Linked DNA regions of Homo sapiens: all the other regions are reported to be linked to region 1. The links are microRNA targets in miRTarBase. Many come from high-throughput screens and were not tested one by one. Region 1 holds a microRNA gene; each other region holds the end of a gene's coding sequence. Distances are from middle to middle.
Evidence for each region. The annotated mature microRNA hsa-miR-1200 reads CUCCUGAGCCAUUCUGAGCCUC and lies in region 1 at 1,716-1,737, opposite strand. An mRNA with a match to its seed (bases 2 to 7 or 8) in the 3' UTR can be bound and repressed. Matches are read on the target gene's strand: a 7mer-m8 pairs with bases 2 to 8, a 7mer-A1 pairs with bases 2 to 7 and ends in A, and an 8mer does both.

Region 1 (3,198 bases):
TCTGAAATTAAAGAGGCATACATCACATCTGGACCCCAGGATCCAACTCCTGGACACGTATCCCAGATATAACTCTCACAAAGGTCCCCAAGGGTCACAAATAAGGATGTTAGCTGCAGAATTCTCTGTGGTAGCAGGGAGCTGAGTGTCTATCAACTGGGGAAGATATAAACAAAATGGAATAAATGCAGACAATGAAATATTATGCAAATGTGGGAAGTTTATACAACATAGATATATCTGAAAACATAATACTGAGTGAAAAAATAAGCATTCTTACTTTCTATATAGTCTATATTACAGAGATTTATCATTTATGTAAATTAAAACAAACACACACAAAAATAATATATAATTTTGTAAAGACATTCATTTTAGTTCTAGCATATTAGGTGGTTCTCTGAGGAGGGAAGGAAATGGGTGTAGGGAATGGGGGGTGAAGAGGAACAATAACAAAATAAGAGGAGGGTCTTGCATGGCCTTAGGGTGACAATAAGCTATGAACTGAGCAGTATGCATAACTCAACTCCATATCTGAGGGCCAATTAATTCTTTAAACATTGTTGAGTTCTTGTACAGATTAAACCAGATCTATAAGTCAAACTTCTGGCAATGTAGGAGGTGCTCAACACCTATTTGCTCCCCCTGTGGCTCTCAGAAAATGTAAAAGGGATGGGGTTTTCTTTTGCTTCTCTAATAATTTTATAAGTGAAAATATGAGTCTCAAGAGAATGAGGTAAGAAGAGTAGCACTCAGATATGAGTGTAGAAGGCTAGTTCTCCACCCTGGGTGCATATCACAGTCACCCAGGGGATTCACAGAAAATTCAGATAATCAGGCCCAATCCACTCGTTCCCTCCCCCAGTGACAATGTGTATCATCATCTCTAAGGGCAGGAGGAATAGGGGCCAGGGCCAGGGTCCACAGTACATTTTGAAAAGCATTAGCCTTGTGCTGGAGGGTCTGTCTGTCCGCTGTGCTCTCAGCCACTCATGTTCTTTGGATTGTTGCTTTTGAAACTTTCAAGGGCTTTTGCTAAATAAAGCGTCACCAAACTGCTCAAAAAGAAATACATTTCAAAATATATGATTAGTGTATACAGTATGGTACCCCATCTGCTCTTCCAAAATACTTGAGTTTTAGAAAATAATGTGTAGACAGGTCTATAAATTGCTACCTCCCACAAAACAAAGTAGACTCACTTTAAGGGGTAAGGAAAAATATTTTTTTTCTTTTGGTTTACCCATAGCAAGAGAGTTAATCTATAAGAGCAAGCAAGCATGCCTTCATTCATTCATTCATTCATTCAGTCAGTCAGTCAGTCAGTTGGCACTTGGGCTAAAATAAAGTACTTTATTCTAGGGATGGTTCAGCTAACTTATAGGAATTTAGCATCCATAATAAATAGAACTTGCACAAACGTAGCAACTTTTCTTCTCACAGCTCAATATTCAAGCAAGTAAATATGCACCTTGGGTTGCAAGATCCTAGAAGGCAGAGAATGTAACTCTGTTGAATGTCACTATGTGCTCCATGTTATCCAGCATTTGGTTAATAGTGACTAGGATAATCGTTCATGTCTATTACATTTCCCACAGCATATAGCATCGTGTGAGTCTCAGCCTTTTCTAACACTGCTCAGATGCTGGCTGAAGACTTTGGGACTTCAGGCTATCCCTGACAAATTCCTGAACCAATCTCTCTGGCAAGTGATTGAGGCTCAGAATGGCTCAGGAGAAGTAGCATAGTAAACTAGGAAGAATGTGGGCTTTGGGGTCACAGAACTCTGGATTTGAAACCTGGTTCTCTCACTTATGGGCTAAGTCTCTTCATCTGTAAAATGGGATAATGGCATCAACCTTGCTGGGTTGCTATGATAATTAGATAATGTACACTCAGTGCCTAGAACAGAGTAGGCCTGGCAACTGTGGAAGGGAGGCTGCTGCCAATCAAAGTGTGTTGCTGCACACTCAGTATCAAGTATCCTAAAAGAAGCTCTGATTCCCCATTGCTCATGAAACTCTAGTTTGTATTTCCAAGCTCTGTGATCGATGCTGGGCTCACGGGGAAGAGTTTCTGCAATCCAAAGCTCCCATCAGAATGGGAGCCCTTCCTGAACCCTATTGCTAATGTGACTGCAAATAAAACAACCTGTCTAATCATTTCCATCTCCCTTCCTCTGATTCATTTAAGGAACGAATCAATGCCTTAATTATGTGAACCATTCAGAACTATAATGTGTCACGACTGGGAACGCCCTATGAGATGCCAAAAGCCCCACCCCTTTTGACATCAACAGTGGCCTGGATCAGGGATGCTTTGGTTCTTTCCTTTGGGCACTCTACTCTGGAATGATGTCCAATCACTTTCTTCTGCAAGGGCCAACCTCACACTTTATCCCTTCAGCCTGGCCACTAAGACCCAGCTCTTGCCTCTTCTACTCTGGCTAATATGCCCCTTGGCCAGGCCACCACACAGTCAACTACAGGGCTTATGAACTACCTGAAAAATATTTGCTGAATAGAAGTCAATGAGTATGTGAAAATGAATGAATGAGTGAATGAAATAAGTTGCTTCTCATCTCTGAATGAGATTTGGATTAATTGTTTCATTGGACTGTTGCCCCATGCAAGCAACTATCATCTGGCAGTGCCTCTGGAGGAAGAGGCTGACCTCATATAGCTCTAAATATGAAGTCCAAACATATAGTTTATGTTTCCTAATTCAGCTGATTTGTGGATATTAAAAACAACTGCCACAATGTCCAAAACTAGATGGTTCTTTAAAGTTAATCACAACATGGTTTTTGGTTTATATTCTAAAACATAATCTCTCACCCAATACATTAATTTACATATCCACATAATGAAATTCATGCATATATATGTGCACATATTTTAATGAATCTAAATAGATCACTATAGTTTTATGCATGAAAGGCTTTTAAAAAAATCTGGCATAAAACATAGCCATATTAAATCCCTCTCCAACATGGTAATTTAAGAACAGAATTTTCCATGTTGTTTTCTACTGCTGATTTCATTTTCTACTGTTAGACTGACCACCTTGTGTCTCCTGAAATGCCGTCTTGCTTGAAAAGTCCTTCTTAACTCTCCCACAAGTCACTCTCTTCTCTATGAACCCCAAATCCTTTTTATAGGTCTCCATGAGCAGTGTCAAGGTCTTCATCTATGGTCT
Region 2 (3,000 bases), 17 Mb from region 1:
ACTTGTCATTTATACTTGTGTATCTTATAGACAAAACGGTAAGCCCTTAAGAGCAGAAACTGCTTAAAAGTCATTTCTGTATCACTGGTGACTAGTGAGGTGTCTTGCACAGTGAAATGGGTGAATGATAGGAACTGGAGAGAGGGTAAGGGATCTAGTCTAGGCTATAGGGTTTGTATGAGCAAATTCCAAGATAGAAAAGATAGACTAGGTTAGTGCAGCATGTGCCAAATGTTTTGAAGAATACATAGTGGACACCATCATCAGTCTTTCTGTGTCAGAAAGACAAACAAAAAAAACAATGAACAAAGTTATGCTATTCTAGGAAAGACAAATGGCCAGATCTGACTTTTCAAAACTACTCACATTGTGAAAAAAGCAGGAACAAATCTAGTTTCAAGTTCAGCATGCCGTTCCCTGTTTAATTCATAAAACACAACTGGCAGAAGTATTACTTGAAGCAAAACAAAAGTAACGTGGGAACTTGCTTATTTGCTAAGCCACAATGTATTTTTCCAGGAATAGCATAAATTTGCCATCTTTCTTGTGTCTATGGAAAAGGGGTTTAGAATTGTTTCACTAAAAATTAAATTTCTATATTGTCAAACATGATTGTATACTCAAATTTTAAAATGTGAAGGGAACACTTACTAAGCATTTCCTGGGTATGCCACTATATTAAGTCCTAGTAATATGATATAGTTTATTTCAATTTTTTTTCAACTCATACTTCCTTTAAAATAGCACTGACCAAAAGAAAGTTAACATGAGCTTCATGTACAATTTTTAATCTTTTTGCAGAAAAATAAACTGAGAAAGGCTAAAATTGTTTTATTTAAGCCACTATACCAAGACATATTGATTTCACCAATATAAAAATTGAGATAGTTTACATTTTTTGGTACATCTTTAAAATCTGGTATGTATTTTATACTGACAGCACATCTCAATTTGGACAAGCTACATTTCCAGGGCTCAATAGTCACATGAATCTCAATTGTAATCAAAGAGGTTGGCCTGCATCCTTCCATTGTCTAGCACATCTACTTGTAGACAATTGTGAACATCTGCCACTCTGCCAATTCTATATCCCATCATTGTAAGTTCAGATCAACATATACCACTAGCAGAATTTATTCATTACCAAATATTAAGCTGTGAGACCAGCACTATGTCTGGTACTAAATAAATGGCAACAAAAATGCTGACATGGGAGTTCAACCATTCATGCATTTGCAGATACTAACACAGGTAACAGTGAGTGAACAATCCTCCCCCTTTTTTTCATACCACTTAATACAATTATTAATTTTCTTATTTATTGTGTGTATATGCACATCTGTTTCTCTTATGACATGCCACAAGGGAAGGAACTACATCTATCTTGTTTGCCATTGTATCCCTGGGCCTTAGCAGAATGTGTTATACAAAGTAGATGGTCAAGTGTGTGGAAAATGAATAAATATGGCCATGCATTGATTACCAGCTTCAACCAGCTTGTCATTTCATTACACTTTGTCAATTAGTCAAGAGACATTCCACATTTTCTCAATGAAAGCAGTGAACAGAACAACTGTTTTCTCTTCAGCACAATATCTTATAGCCCATTCCAATCATTAAAAAGTAATCTGAAATTTCCCACTAGTCAGAATCACATTTATCCTGTCTTCATTAGACTGTCCTCCAACACACAACAAAACTAGAATGGCTGAGGCACAAATGAACAAGTACAAGAAAACAGTCCTTTCCAGCAACCTCTCAGACTTAAGAAGACAAGGACACACATGCACTTGGAAGAAAGAAAAGAAAATAATGAATAGCATTTACCACCACACAGTCAGTACTGGCCTGGCTTTTAAGAGCTGTGAAGACTTCAGAAACTTCTTTGGCAAACTATTTTATGTTAAACAATAGAAATACTGTAGAAAGCCATGATAAAGGAAAACCTAAAATTAGTTAATGTCCTGAGTTTTTAAAAAAGCAAAATAAAATAGCATGTAATAAGGTGAAGCCTATTAAACACACACAAAATCAAATCATCAAAATCTCAAACTTAACTCATTCTTTAGTAATATAATATTGTATTATAAAGTCCTTTGGCTAGTCTTGACATTGTAGAAATAATTTTATGTAGAGTGCAAAACCTGGAAGAATATGAGAGCTGACAGTGAGAGCAGCTTTTTATTTTGTATAAAATGGTATTTTAACAATACTGGCTTTCCCCAAATTAATTTACAGTCAGTTTTATCATTTTTAGCATATAAAGCCTCCTACTCCTAGTTAAGTATTTTCTGTTTTGTAAACTACTGGCATACTTAACCTTTTCATATCACTGAAAACATTTATTCATCTATTGTATGTAGATCGATCTTTTAAAAACTGAATCGTGTTTAAAATACACTAAAGAAAATTACTTTTCCCTTTTCTTTTTGGTGAGCATTTCAAAGGTGGGGTAAATTCGGCCTCTTCACTGTGTTTTCTTTTCTTTTTTTTCTTTTTATGGTCACTTTGGTAACCACTGGAGTCACTGCCTTGGAAAACAGGGTCCTGGTCCTGAACTTCCTGGTGCTTTTTCTTCTTCTTCTTTTTCTTTGGCTCCTCCTCCCAGATGCCATTCGCATTATTAGTATTCTGCAGGGCTGACTCTTCCATTGGAGTGTCATCTGCATCATCTGCTAGCTTTGTGGTACCACTGTCCACTTCATATGTCTCTGGGTCTTTCTTCTTTTTCTTCTTTTTAGGTTTTTTAGCAGCTTCCTCAGTGCCATTTTCTGTAACTTCTTCAGAAACTTCAGAGCGCTTGAATTGTAAACTATAAATTAACAGTTAAAAAAATTAACAGAACAATAAGCAAAAAACAAAGAACAAATTGAGATCAAGATATCCCAACAGGCTAAGATTTTCTAAATAATGACTCCAGTACAAGACACATAACCATGGCATAAATTCCAAATATTCTATCCTGTTATCCCTCAACCCACTAAAATATGTATGGGCTGC
Region 3 (3,198 bases), not on the chromosome of region 1:
CTTGAGAGTCACTCTGAGGCCTGCAGAGACAGGATGGGTCCAGTTCCCAGTGCATAGCAGGTGCCAGCAGGTGTGTTGGTGTCAGGTGTGTTGGCTTCTTAGGGCTTCCATATCAAATTCCCACAAACTTGGTGACTTAAAGCCACAGAAATTTATTCTTTGACGTTATGAAGGCCAAATGTCCCAAGTCATGGTGTCATTGGGCTGTCTCCCTCGGAAAGTGCTGGGAAGACTCTTCCTGGCGTCTTCTAGCTTCTGGGGGCTGTGGCAGCAAAACCCCAACCTCTGCCTCCGCTGTCACGTGGCCTTCCTCCCTATGTGTGTCTTGTGTTCAATTTCCCTTATTGCATTAGGACACCAGTCATGGCACTTAGGGCCCACCTCATACAGTATGACCTCCTAATATTAGCTTGGCTACATCTGCAAAGACTATTTCCAAATAAAGCCACAGACATAGATACTGGGAGTTAGGACTTGAACATATCTCTCTGGGGGACAAGATTCAACCCACAACAACTCCATTATCAGGATGATGAGACCCTCTGATGTTTCCTGTGTCCATCTCCAGCCCCTCCCTCTGTCCCTCCTGAGCTGCTGAATGTCATCTCCACAGGACATCCTGGATACTCTCGAAAGGCCAGCATGGGAATCCAACCTCATTGTTCCTATCTCAGCCCTGCCCCAAATCCTAGAGAGAAATGGAAACATCTCAATACACTATCATACAAATATGTTCACAGCAGCTGTCTTGATAATTGCCACAACCAAAACAGTATCAATGAATAGGAAAAAATAAGGGAATGAATTGTGATTTGCTCATACAATGCAATGGTGTCCTACTCAGCAATAAAGAGGAAAAGATACTGACACACACAGCATGGATGAATCTCAAAACATGCAATGCGGCCGGGTGCGGTGGCTCATGCCTGTAATCCCAGCACTTTGGGAGGCCGAGGTGGGTGGATCACAAGGTCAGGAGATCGAGACTATCCTGGCCAACATGGTGAAACCATGTCTCTACTAAAAATACAAAAATTAGCTGGGTGTGGTGGCGTGCGCCTGTAGTTCCAGCTACTCAGGAGGCTGAGGCAGGAGAATCACTTGAACTCGGGAGGTGGAGGCTGCAGTGAGCCGAGATCACGCCACTGCACTCCAGCCTGGGAGACAGAGTGAGACTCTGTCTTCAACAACAACAACAACAACAACAACAACAACGCAACACTGAGTGAAAAACAAAAGACACAAGAATACACATTGGGTGATGCCAATTATATGAAGTTCAAGGGACATGGAAAATAATATCTGGTGATAGGAATCAGAAAGTGGTGGCTCTCAGGGCTAGGGATTGACTGGGAAGGACACCAGGATCTTTCTGGAGTGAAGGAAAATTTCTCTATCCTTGATTGAGAAGCTGGTTACACAGGGGTGCATGTTTGGCAACACTCATGGCATGGCACATGTAAGAGCTGCGTGATTCAACTGAAAAGCTAACGCTATTTTTAAATTTCAAAGAACAATGTGTTAGCCTGTTTTCACACTGCTATTAAGAAATACCTGAGACTGAGTAATTTATAAATGAAAGAGGTGTAATTGACTCACAGTTCCACATGGCGGGGGAGGCCTCAGGAAACTTACAATCATGGCGGAAGGGGAACCAGGCACATCTTACATGGTGGCAGGCAAGAGAGAAGAGCAGGGGAAACCACCACTTACAAAACCATCAGATCTCGTGATAACTCACTCACTATCAGAACAGCATGGGGGAACCACCCCCATGATCCTATCACCTCCCACCAGGTCCCTCCCCCAACACATGGGGATTATAATTCTGATTACAATTCTAGATAAGATTTGGGTGGGGACACAGCCAAACCATATCAAACAAACAACCTGCAATAAAAAAAAACGTTTTAAATTGGGGGTAAACAAAATAAGTACAGACCCGCCATACAGGTTGGGCAGGGGGTCCCGGCCTTCATCTCCTCAGTGCACCTGTCTTGTTCCTGAGACTCTAGGCCATTGCTGCTCCCTCTTTTGTAAAAGTCAATGCCCTCAAGGAATTTATTTCCTGAAAACTTATGGCTAAGGGGTGCCCAGCCTGCTGATTGCTTGACTCAGTGCTAGATGAGAGAAGAGACCTCAGAATCGGACAGGCTTTAAATTCCAGCCCTGTCCTGAGTAGCCGAGTGGCCTTGAGAGAGACCCAGTGAGATTTCCACACCCGGATACATCGTGGAACCATCAAGGCACAATGATTAGCACACCCATCTGTGCAAATATTTATCTGTTTTTGTGAGACCATTTAAAATCTTCTTTTAGCTCCTTGAAAATATTCAATGCAAGCTGGGTGCGGTGGCTCATGCCTGAAATCCCAGCACTTTGGGAGGCCAAGGCAGGCAGATCACTTGAGGTCAGGAGTTTGAGACTAGCCTGGCCCACTTATAGTGAAACCCCGTCTCTACTAAAAAATACAAAAATTAGCTGGGCGTGGTGACACACGCCTGTAGTACCAGCTACTTGGGAAGCTGAGGCAGGAGAATCGTTTGAACCCAGGAGGTGGAGGTTGCAGTGAGCAGAGATTGAACCACTGCACTCCAGCCTGGGCAACAGAGCGAAACTCCATCTCTCAAAGAAAAAAAAATATTCAGTGCTTGATTCTGTCATTTGAGAGAACATGGATGAACCTAGGGGATATTTTTTTGTGTAAAATGAGCCACACACAGAGAGGCAAGTACCACATGACCTCATCTCTATGTGGAATCTAAAATAGTCAACCTCAGAGAGGTCGAGAGGAGAATGGTGGGTAGTAGAAGCTAGAGGCAGGGATGGGTCCCTGGTAGCCGGGGAAAGGGGAGACATTGGTCCAAGTTTTGGTTAGACAGGAGGAGGGAGCCCTGGTGACCTACTGCATAGCATGGGGCTCTAGAGGGTTCTTGTTCTATGAGAATCAGCCTCTGACTTCTTTGCTGGAGGGGTTGTGATTCCTCAAACAGGCCTGAGTCTCTGCAGTTTCTCGCTTGTGGATCTTGATCTCCGAGTATTCACTGTCAGTGGCCTCCTGTCCCTGCGGGTCCTGAGGCTTCACTTTATGGAAGCTGAGGGTTGCATAATGGAGCTCTCCTTCCTCCCCTGACGAGGGGGCAACAGCTGGGGGAGGCTTCTTCAGGGGGTTGCCATCTTTCCAGGATTCAGTCAGGG
Region 4 (3,092 bases), not on the chromosome of region 1:
ATCTCAGCACTTTGGGAGGCCCAGGTGGGCAGATCACCTGAGGTCAGGAGTTCAAGACCAGCCTGGACAACATGGTAAAACCCCCATCTCTACTAAAAATACAAACATTAGCCGGCCATGGTGGTGTGTGCCTGTGGTCCCAGCTATTCGGGAGGCTGAGGCACAAGAATTGCTTGAACCTGGAAGGCAGAGGTTGAAGTGAGCCAAATCAGGCCACTACACTCCAGCCTGGGCCATAGTGAGACTCCATCTCAAAAAAACAGAATAGGCATGAGGAGGGCTCTGGGTTCAGCTGGGACACGCTGCCTGTGCCTCTGGCCTCACCACCTGACCCACATCCCACAGACTTGGAACGCAGTGCTGCTGCGCTATTTCAACCCCACAGGTGCCCATGCCTCTGGCTGCATTGGTGAGGATCCCCAGGGCATACCCAACAACCTCATGCCTTATGTCTCCCAGGTAAGGCAAAAGGGAAGGGACAGAGGAGTGGCCCTGGGGTTAAAGCTGGTGCCTGGGATCTGGGACGAACTGACCTGATCTCCACCTCCAGGTGGCGATCGGGCGACGGGAGGCCCTGAATGTCTTTGGCAATGACTATGACACAGAGGATGGCACAGGTGAGCCTAGGACCAGGGGGACCTAGGAGTGGGAGCCAGGAAGGAGAGTCAGGGGGAACAGACTCCCCATCCAACACACTCCCTTCTCTGCAGGTGTCCGGGATTACATCCATGTCGTGGATCTGGCCAAGGGCCACATTGCAGCCTTAAGGAAGCTGAAAGAACAGTGTGGCTGCCGGGTAGGAAGAGAAGGGAGAAGTGAGGGAGGGGAGGGACCAGATCCAGGCAGAGCGGCCCAGAGGCGTGGTCAGTCCAGCCCGCTCCATAAACCCTGTTCTCCGTGGGCCAGATCTACAACCTGGGCACGGGCACAGGCTATTCAGTGCTGCAGATGGTCCAGGCTATGGAGAAGGCCTCTGGGAAGAAGGTAGGCCCCCCCGCCCCACCCACCTCACCCACCTCACCCCACCCAGCTCTCAGCAACAGAGCAGCTTTGGCCCTTCCCACTCACCTCTCTGGAGGGTACCTGGCACTGCCCAGTCTCCTCAGCCTGCCTAGCACCCGGTGCCTGCGGGCCAGCCGCTGCTCTGCACTTCTGCTTCTTAAAGACCTGGCCAGCAGCTGGGCCAGGGCCGGCTCAGCTAAGCTCCAACTACCTCCTGTCTTGCAGATCCCGTACAAGGTGGTGGCACGGCGGGAAGGTGATGTGGCAGCCTGTTACGCCAACCCCAGCCTGGCCCAAGAGGAGCTGGGGTGGACAGCAGCCTTAGGGCTGGACAGGATGTGTGAGTGCTGGCCTGACCCCTGCAGTTAGGGGCCAGGGAGGGGCTAAATCAGATCTGGGCATGCCCACCCAGGGCGGGCTGTGGGGTGGGGGAGGCTCTGCATTCCACCGTGGGCCCTGAGCACACACCTCGCCGTGTTGCAGGTGAGGATCTCTGGCGCTGGCAGAAGCAGAATCCTTCAGGCTTTGGCACGCAAGCCTGAGGACCCTCCCCTACCAAGGACCAGGAAAAGCAGCAGCTGCCTGCTCTCCAGCCTCTGGCAGGAACTCAGGGCCCTGGAGCTGCTGGGGCCAAGCCAAGGCCTCCCCTACCTCAAACCCCAGCTGGGCCCGCTTAGCCCACCAGGCATGAGGCCAAGGGCTCCACTGACCAGGAGGCCGAGGTCTCTAACTCTTATCTTCCACAGGGTCCAAGAGTTCATCAGGACCCCCAAGAGTGAGTGAGGGGGCAAGGCTCTGGCACAAAACCTCCTCCTCCCAGGCACTCATTTATATTGCTCTGAAAGAGCTTTCCAAAGTATTTAAAAATAAAAACAAGTTTTCTTACACTGGGGCAGGTTCTCACAGATGGTCACTATCCACCCCTGGAATAGAATCAGCCAGGCCTGAGCGTTGAGGAAGCAATTTCTTTAATTTTATCGGAATCCAGGACACAACAAGAAAAACACCCAAAAACCACATGGAGACAGAAGACGAGACACAACTCCTCCCCCACTGCCTCCCTGCTCTAGAGTGGGGACAAAGTGGGGGTGAGACAGCTGGGGGGAGACCTGAACCTCAGTCCAGCCCTACAGGCTCCAGGCCTGCAGGGAAGGAGGGTAACGGGGAGGCAGGGCCCAGCCCCCCAGTGTGGGGAAACAGCTGAGGGAAGGCCCCCCTCAAAAGGCTCCACCTCCTCACCAGCACTCCTGCCCAGGGACAGGGAGCCCACAGCAGCAAGGGGACCCCGGGGCCATGGCCACATTCATGACTGAGAAGCAGCTGAGTGGAGGCAGGAGACACGATTATCTGGGCAGAATCAGTTGGGGCAGGGGCCTGGGGGGGCCCCATGGGCCAAACCCTGAGGTCACAGGAGGGGGCCCAAAGCGGGGCTAGTGAGTGAGGTCCTGAGTGAGTGGGTCAGCGGCTGGGCCCCTTTCTCCAGCTGCCTGTAGCCCCTCCAATACTGCTGCCAGGGGGGCCCGCCTCCAGGGAAATGGATAAGAAAGCAGCCTGCCCCTGCTGCAGACAGAGCCAGGTGGCTAAGGCCAGGAAGGAAGGCCCGGCCAGGCCTTGCCACCTGCCCCCAGAGGCCTGTGGGAAAAGGACAGGTCAGGAAGGGTGGGGACAGGGGCTCGACCGGCTCAGATCCAAGATGGTGCCACGCTTGCTTGCTGAGTCCCCCATGAGCTGGGGTACTGCACTGGGGCCAGCGACTAGTTAGACAGGAGGCAGCAGCTTCTCAAGAAATTCCTTCACAGCTGCCATCTCCTGAGGGGATTAAGAGGGGATCACGAGAGGCACCTGGCTGGAGGCAGAGAAGTGGGAGTGGGAAATGGTCCCCCCACTGACCTGAGGACAGGAGCTGTGCATGACACCCGGGTATGTCTTGAACTGGACCCTGGCAGGTGTGACAACAGACCGGAGCTTCTCAGCCGTCAGGGCCCCAAACCGTACGGGCACCATGGGGTCCAGCTCCCCATGGCACTGGAGTATGGCCAGGTCCTTGGCACTGCCATTAGCTGCCTGGAGGCCGGACAGGACTCAGGGCA

Region 2: the mRNA of POLR1F is a reported target of hsa-miR-1200. Seed matches in the 3' UTR shown: 7mer-m8 at 1,963-1,969.
Region 3: the mRNA of SIGLEC8 is a reported target of hsa-miR-1200. Seed matches in the 3' UTR shown: 7mer-m8 at 2,173-2,179, 7mer-A1 at 2,066-2,072 and 8mer at 2,001-2,008.
Region 4: the mRNA of LYPLA2 is a reported target of hsa-miR-1200. Seed matches in the 3' UTR shown: 7mer-m8 at 2,446-2,452.

What each region holds. Positions count from the first base shown.
Region 1 is chr7:36,917,688-36,920,885 of GRCh38, forward strand. MIR1200 (microRNA 1200) reads right to left here and starts at 1,745; the gene lies at 1,670-1,745. All of the region lies in intron 16 of ELMO1 (engulfment and cell motility 1), which reads right to left.
Region 2 is chr7:19,695,916-19,698,915 of GRCh38, forward strand. It overlaps POLR1F (RNA polymerase I subunit F), which reads right to left. Exons shown (of 4, transcript NM_001002926.2): 4 at 1-2,812. The coding sequence ends at 2,401. Among named protein-coding and RNA genes, the nearest start is that of MIR3146, 8.0 kb to the right of the region's middle.
Region 3 is chr19:51,449,432-51,452,629 of GRCh38, forward strand. SIGLEC8 (sialic acid binding Ig like lectin 8) reads right to left here. Exons shown (of 7, transcript NM_014442.3): 7 at 1,566-3,198. The coding sequence ends at 2,948. Among named protein-coding and RNA genes, the nearest start is that of SIGLEC8, 7.4 kb to the right of the region's middle.
Region 4 is chr1:23,794,401-23,797,492 of GRCh38, reverse strand. It overlaps LYPLA2 (lysophospholipase 2), which reads right to left. Exons shown (of 10, transcript NM_007260.3): 9 at 2,893-3,066; 10 at 1,954-2,811. The coding sequence ends at 2,761. GALE (UDP-galactose-4-epimerase) reads left to right here. Exons shown (of 12, transcript NM_001008216.2): 7 at 346-459; 8 at 551-617; 9 at 711-796; 10 at 907-984; 11 at 1,228-1,342; 12 at 1,486-1,894. The coding sequence ends at 1,544. Among named protein-coding and RNA genes, the nearest start is that of LYPLA2, 4.8 kb to the right of the region's middle.